Linked DNA regions of Homo sapiens. The protein of the gene in region 2 purifies or fractionates together with the protein of the main gene of each other region. This does not show direct contact. Each region holds a gene or a part of one and is shown on either strand. Other genes may lie near its edges.

Region 1 (3,826 bases), on a different chromosome or scaffold from region 2:
GTATGTTTCAATTTTATAAGAAACCACCAGACTTTTTTCCAAAGTCATTATGCCATTTTACACTTCCACCATCAATGTATGAAGTTTTGGTTGCTCCACACACTTGCAAACATTCTGCTGCTGTCAATCTTTTTAATTTTAACCATTCTGGGTTTATTAAATTTTTGAAGTTTAAAATTCCTGTTCTTAGCATACAAGTTTTTTTGAATGGGCCCTCCCTACCTGTACAGTGACATATCTCTGTCTTCTTAATTTTTATGCACTGATTTCTCATCTGAAGTTCTGTACTCTCTCTAGTTTGTTTGCCTCATAAAATCCTGTTCTTAAATGTAAAAACTCCTTCGAATCTATAATTGAAAGAAGGAGGTAGAGAGAGTTTCTGACCTCTGTCATCAGCATCAAGGCAGAAGAAAGTTAGGATAACTTGTTATACTGAATTATGTGTTTGTGTGTCTTTCTAACCTTCTAGACTACTGCTTTTTCTCAAAGGTGTGTTAGGGTTCTGTCAATGTCTGATTTTTATTTCATCTTTAAAATAGATCTTTGTATGTTGAAAAAACTAATTGAGGAAATGTACACTCAAATATGTTGTATACTAAGTAGTACACCAAGTTGTATACCAATACTCAAATGTGTTATATACCAAGTTGTTGCTTATAACTTGAAGACCAGTATTATGTCAATTTGGGTTGCCAGGGTAAATTGCTTTTAAACATACCCCAGATTAAAATTTCTCTTGCTATTTTTGTGCATGTCTTGATATTAACTGTAAATACGTTATTTGGTTGAGTTTAGCTCATTAAAAAAAAATTATACAAATGAGTACACACCTGAACAGTGCTGAATCAAATGGTAGCCTTTGCTTAGGCACATTTGAGCAGTACATGATCTAATACTGGAGTACTATATGTGTAGTGGCAAATAAATGTATTGGAATTGTATCATGAAAATACCATATTATAATTTATAGCTTATGTTTTTGAGTGCCCTTTGTCAGATTTATGCTAAAGGTAAGGGAGCAGTTTTTAGATATCATTATTGATTATGAAACAAATATCCTATAACTCATTCATCTGATATATAATAGCTATATATTATAGTACTTCTGTCTGCTTCTGTTTTAGGTGTTGGTTAATAAGACAGTTAAGTTTTTGTCTCATGGCTCATGCTTTGGTGGAGAAGTGCAGATAGATAAGTAAGCCTAATGTCAGATAGTAATAAATTCTTTGAAGAAAATAAAGCAAGTTGATGGAATAAATAATAAATTCTATCAATTATGAAATAGCAATAATAGAACAGTACTTACATTGTATTAATAAAATGCTGCTAAATGCTTTGTACATATTAGCACGCTTAATCCTTCCACTTCTATGAAGTAGATAATGTCATTATCCTCAATTTGCAGGTGAGAAACATGAGACACAAACAAGTTAAATAATAGGCCCAGCTGTGATGGAGCTGGTATTCAGACTTGGGTGTTTTAGTTTTATATTGCTGTGTAACAAACATCTCTAAATACAAGTATTTATTTTCTTTTAAGATTCCATGGGTTGAGTGTGATCAGGAGATTGTTGATTCTACTCCACATAGTGTTAGCTAGGACTGGAGCCATTTTGGGGCTTGGTTGGGTTGGAATTTCCAAGATGGCTCACTCACTTGGCTGCAGTTGATGTTGTCTATTTTCTGGAAGCTCAGCTGGAACTATTGACTTCAGCATCTCAGTTCTCCTTTGTGTGCCCTCTTGATGTGACCTTGGCTTCCCACAGCATAGAAGGAAGAGGAAGCTGCCATTCTTAAGGCCTGGGCTTGGAAATTCATAATGTCATTTTTGCAGTATCCTATTGGTCAGAGCAGTTGTAAGACCCCCCAAATTCAAAGGGAGAAGAAATGAATTCCATCTGTCAGTGGGGGAGAAACTTGCACATACATGGAGGGGAGAATGTGATAGTGGCCATCTTTGGAGATGATGTGCCACACCAGTCAATTTGACCCCTTAGTAGATAGGGATCAGCTTAGTCAGGTAACTCCATCCACTCTTAAGTTGTGACAGTCACGCAGACTTGATTGAAATGTGAAGATCTAGTTCTAGTTGATGAGTATTGTAAATGTGTTAATAACCTGTAGTGGAAATGAGTTTGTTGATTGAAGATATAGGAGGAAAGCTGTATGGCTGCAGCAAAGTTAAGGGGATGGCCTAGAGTGGAATGGGACAAAACAGAAACAAATTTTATGCTGGATTTCATAGAAGAATGGAACTGTCATTTATAACTCTAGTTTATAATTGTTTCATGAAAGCAGTTAGGTCCACCTACATGATTTGCAAGGTCTAATGCCGAATGAAAATGTGGGGCCCTGGCCTGTGATGAGGAAGTCAATCTCCCCTTTCTGTAGACCTTGTTTTTGTATAGGTCTGTGGACCCCCAAGCAAATATGTAGTCTCCATGTCAGGACATGCTCATTACCTACATCAGTGATAGGCAAGAGGCCACCCTCTGAATGTGCCAGGGTGATTCTAGCCTAGGATGGGGATGGCTGTCACCTTGCCTTTCCCTAGTTGTAGGGTGAGGATTAGGAGGTCAGACTGAGCCACAGGGTTCAACTGAGTGAGAACACTTCCTGGAGAGGCAGACCACTGGTGAGCTGAGGTGTCAGGCCCCTGGCACATGCTCCATTGGAGTCCTATTGGAGTTTACTTATAAAACTGATATTTAGAGATAAAATTATTAAGAATTTTAAGACAGTGATCACAGGGTATTAAACCCCAATCATGGATTCCTCCTGAGTGGTGGTCTCATGTGACTAGAGTGATCACATGCTCGTGAAGATGACCCTGAAGCCTATGTTACTTGGGGTGGTGGTGGTGGTGATGTAGACCAGGGGTTAGTAGATTAGTAAACCCTTTCTGTAAAGGGCTAGATAGTATTTTAGGCTTTATAGGCCATGTGGTCTCTGTCACAGCTACTCAGATCTGCCATTGTAGTGCAGCAGTATCCATACCAAATATGAAAATGAACAAATGGGCTGTGTTCCAGAAGACTATTTGCAAAAACAGTGTGCTGGATTTGGCCTGCTTGCTCTAGTTTGCCCACCCCAATGTAGATGTTATAGGAATGTACCTCATATAGGCCTGAAGCTTGGCATGTTGAAGGACGCTTCTAAGAAATTAATTTTTTATTTCACCCAGTCTCTAAATAAATTCCTAACAATGTGGTGAGGTTGTTTTGCATCCCTTACTTGCACCTGATAATCAGCCAAGCACCTAGTCTGTCCTAGAATTGGGATGGATATGAGTGGATAGTAGAAGAGAATATAATACTCCCTGTGAGAGTGTCAAAAACAGCTTATTCAAATATGGTAGAATCTTCATTCTGTTAGTGTGATTGCCTCATTGAGGTCATTCTTGACTACCTTATTTTAAATCACTATATCCCATTCACAGTACTCCTTATCGCTGTTTCCTGTTTGTTTTTATCCAGAGTACTTATCATCTTCTGGTATTCCAAATATTTTGCTTATTTATTTCCTACCTCCCTTCTTTCTCCCTGAATTTAAGCCTCATGGTGGTAGAGAGATTTTTGTCTGTTTTGCTCACTACTGTATATATCTTTCCATACCTGCCATATGGTAGACTTTCAGTATTTGATAAAGATGAATGAATGGTGCTAGTTCAAGGCCAATTTTATAGACATAAAACCTTGCCTATGTTATTTTATTCCTTTTTATATTTATTCTGTTTCTGCTACTGAGACCTGGGCTCTTTAAGGTGGGGGTGATGGTGGTGGTTGTTTCTTTGCATTCTCTTCCAGCTTGAAATATATTGCTTAGT
Region 2 (3,826 bases):
TTAATTTATATAGATTACATATTGAAATAATATTTTAGATATGTTGAGTTAAATAAAATACATTATTAAATTAATTTCACTTGTTTCTTTTGACTTTTTCAAGTGGCTAAATAGAAAATTTTAAATTACATTTGTGTTCACATTATATTTTGATTGTGAAGTGCTGCTTTTGATGCTGCAATGGCTGTTTTAGAGAAAACAATTATGTACATGTTTTTATGATAATGATGAATAAGACATATTTTGTTCATGAAAAACTGTACATTTTTCACACTTAATTGAATCTGATATTTGTCTTCCAATCAATTAGTATATTTAATAGGATCATATTTCTTTTCTTTAAAAAGATGACATAAAATCAATGGTGCATCCAAAAATCATTAGTATGTTGGGATAAAGGAGATAGGACATGTAAATCTCCAGAGCTTTGACTTGTTTCATGGCAAGTCTTTGCAGAATGTCTATGCCCAAATGTGCCATAAAATCTAAGGGAAATATATAACCCAGTTTTAAAACCAATAGTAGTGGTATAAAAATGTTAAATTCAACAGACATTTATTGAACATCCTCTACTCGTAAGATATTGCGCAATGCATCATGAGGACTACAATGGTGAAATTAAACACATCCCCTGCCCTCAAAGCACTTAATTCTGTGAGGAGGAGTCTGACAAGTGGGTAACTGACATATAAGTGTTATGAAAACTCAGAGCTGAGGCACAGGGTCACTAAGGCTACACGTGCTGTACCTTTGTGTAAATTACAAAAAAAAAAAATCCCTTCGGGGTGATGAATTGCACAGAAAAGTGTGGGTACACACACATACACCCTGTGGATGAATTACTACAAGTTGTTCCTTCTCCTTTCAAAAAAGGGAAAGATAACTTAGTTGAATGTTCAGGGAAAAGGTGGCATTTGTGGTATGGTTGGTGATTTCCATAGCCAAACATGGAAGAGGGGGAGACTTCCTCAAAGAGAGAACAGAAAAGAAAAGGAAATAACAGTGTTTTTTTTCTCTTAACCAATCATCTACTTGCATGCACTTTATTTACTCATGCCTAAGACATGAGTAAATAAAAATGAACATGAACTAGTCTAAATTTCACAGGGCAACAAGAAGTTGAGTAGAAAAACAGATTCCCTGGAGTCTTATAAAAATATTTTCTAAATAGAGGTAATGTCAAACTCAGCAAACAGAGCCTAAAGCAAATTTCTTTTCTAACCAGTTTGGGGTTTATGTGCAATCATTGCAATTATGCCTATTCCAAAAGATGAGTATTTGCAATGGCAAAATGGTACCATTTATTAAAATCTTAATAGCCATAGAACTCTTTGCAAAAAAAAACAAATGGAAACACAATCCAGCCCCTCCTTACGAATATCTCAAAGTTCTTCCCCATACTCTCATCCTCCGTTAAGTTCTAGACCCCAGATAGGGACCTTTTAGAAAGCATATTCACATGAAACTTTTTTTAACAACTATGGCTGGCAATTGAATCACAGCAAAAATTGCTCTAATATGTCACCAAAAGATACTGAGATAAGCAAAAATCCCTCATCCTGTCTGGTCTTCCTATTCCCAGACAGGTATACCTGGTCCGGCATGTCACCACAGGCAAATCCAAGAAAACAGGAAAGACGTCACAGGGAACACTCCGCAGTGCGGGCACCACCATGTTCACGTTCACCAGGTGTATCTCCAATTGAGAGCCATTGTTGGGGTAAAGAACACCCAACTCCAAACCTAACACAAGGGAAAGAAATCTCAGGCTGCATAGAATTGTCATTGACACAGGACAGTGTGAAACTGTGCTAAGATCCTGGGGGTAATGTAAGACATTAAATTTGCCCAAGGATTAAATTAATACTCCTCATTTCCTCATAGATGCTGTATAAAGGAGTTTTCTCATTTATGATTTTATGAAAGAGTTTTCTCTCTTCAGGTTCACCTAAATCCAGAAAAGAATTTTTCAGCCCTCAGATTTACTCTTTACTCTGCTGGGGATGGATATGCTAAGCAATGGTGCAGAAGCTCCCAAGTAGAGGACTGTCTTTAAGGAAGATAGCCAAGATTCTGGGAGATGCATTGCTGAGCACTATGCTACACACTTCCATATCATCTCATGTAGAAATCCCAGAGTCCCATCCCACAGCCTGGAATGGGAAAGTGGACACAGAGTTGTCATGGTATGCTGTGCTTTGCTTCTGTGACATTAGCAAGCCAGTATCTAGAAAGACAGAAGTTGGTCAGTCTGTTCGTCTCCCTTCAGGCCCACTTTTACACCTGTCCTTAGAAAAGGAAGAAAACCAAAGACTCATAGTCTTTAGGATTGTGGGTCAATACATAAGAAATGTGCACTTGGTAAAACCCCAACCTACCATCAAAAATGACTGTGATCCACGTTCCCCCTGCAAGGCTACCTTCTTCAGGTTCAATATGTAAACTCAGGTGACGTACTGTAAGTAAGTGAAAAAAAACATTGGTTTTGAAGGTCAGATTCAAACCACTACCTTCTGCAATATTTTAAGCAATATTTAACCTGCCTCAGAATCACCAGAAAGGCTTGATTAAGCACAGGTGGTTGCACCACATCCCCAGAGTTTCTGGTTCCGTAGGTCTGGGGCAGGCCCAAGAATCTACATTTCTAACCAGGTGCTGCTGGTGTGGGAAACACATCATCAGAAGCCCCATTTTAAGGAAAATTTTGACAAATTCTTCTTATCTTAGACATTCAAAAACCCTGCACTCATCAGGACAATTCTGAATTTCTACTTCCTTTGGAAAGAGCCTCAAGGACATATTTGGGTCCTAATCAAACCCATACTGTCTCTCTCTGCTCTCTTTCCCACTCTTTAATCAGGTGGCCATATTTCCCTGTAAAGATCATCAATCATTTCCAGTCCTGGAGAGAAAAAAGGACTTCCATTAGGTTGGTGCAAAAGCAATTGCTGTTTTGCATTCCTTTTAATGGCAAAACCGCGATTACTTTTGCACCAACCTAATAGAAGCTGTTCCTATTTCAATTCTCCTGCTCAATATACTGCTTAATATACTAGTTTTCCCTCATGATCAGAATGACTTCCCAAATGAATACAAAATTATCTAGATTCTTGCCTTGCCTGCTTAGAGAGGGGGTGAAGCATGGATCATTGCTGGAATTTCCTTTTGTTTAAAAAAAAAAAAGGCAGTATAGAATTTATATACTAGGCTAGATTGGATTCTCCTGTATAGATCACCAGCTAAGCATGGGCCTTAATCTATCCCTCCATCTTTGAAGATGTTCCTGGACAAGTCTTGATGAAGGAAAGGCCAAGTTAAGGAAGCCAGCAAAAATCATGCAGCTGCTCAGTGAGGTAATAAACAAGGAAAGTGTTACCGACAGAATTATTTATAGTTTCTTTAGAAGAAACTGTGTCTAGCCCAGGACTTCCCTGTACAGTTATTCTCATGATGCACTTCACATCTGAAGGTGGTGGGGAACCACGTCACATTAGCACAACCATTTATGGCAGCCCCAGCCAGACTAGACCATCTTCCAAAGATGATTAGATACTTCTATCTAAAGAAGCCCCAAAACAAAGGCCATAAAAAGATACAGAGGATAACCAAATTCGCAGAGAAAATTGAACAGATGATTTGAGATAATACAAGCAATCTAATGATTATGACAAGTTAATCTCTTTGGGAAAGTCCGACAGCAAAATCTAAAAAGAATTACATCACATAGCCCAAAAGGAATTATAAAAGAAAGGTTATAAGTTATTATTAAAAGCTCTGCACTACAACAATAATCTTCACTGACCATTAAAAATTGAAGTATATAGTC

Evidence for each region.
Region 1: the proteins of PKHD1 (region 2) and NDFIP2 purify together in Homo sapiens (affinity purification with western blotting, with the first as the bait; one study listed by BioGRID). This does not show direct contact.

What each region holds. Positions count from the first base shown.
Region 1 is NC_000013.11:79,487,588-79,491,413, forward strand, and holds part of NDFIP2 (NEDD4 family-interacting protein 2), read left to right. Parts: intron 1-3,826. UniProt on the Homo sapiens protein: Activates HECT domain-containing E3 ubiquitin-protein ligases, including ITCH, NEDD4, NEDD4L, SMURF2, WWP1 and WWP2, and consequently modulates the stability of their targets. As a result, may control many cellular processes.
Region 2 is NC_000006.12:52,080,800-52,084,625, forward strand, and holds part of PKHD1 (fibrocystin), read right to left. Parts: intron 2,457-3,826; coding exon 2,379-2,456; intron 1,744-2,378; coding exon 1,593-1,743; intron 1-1,592.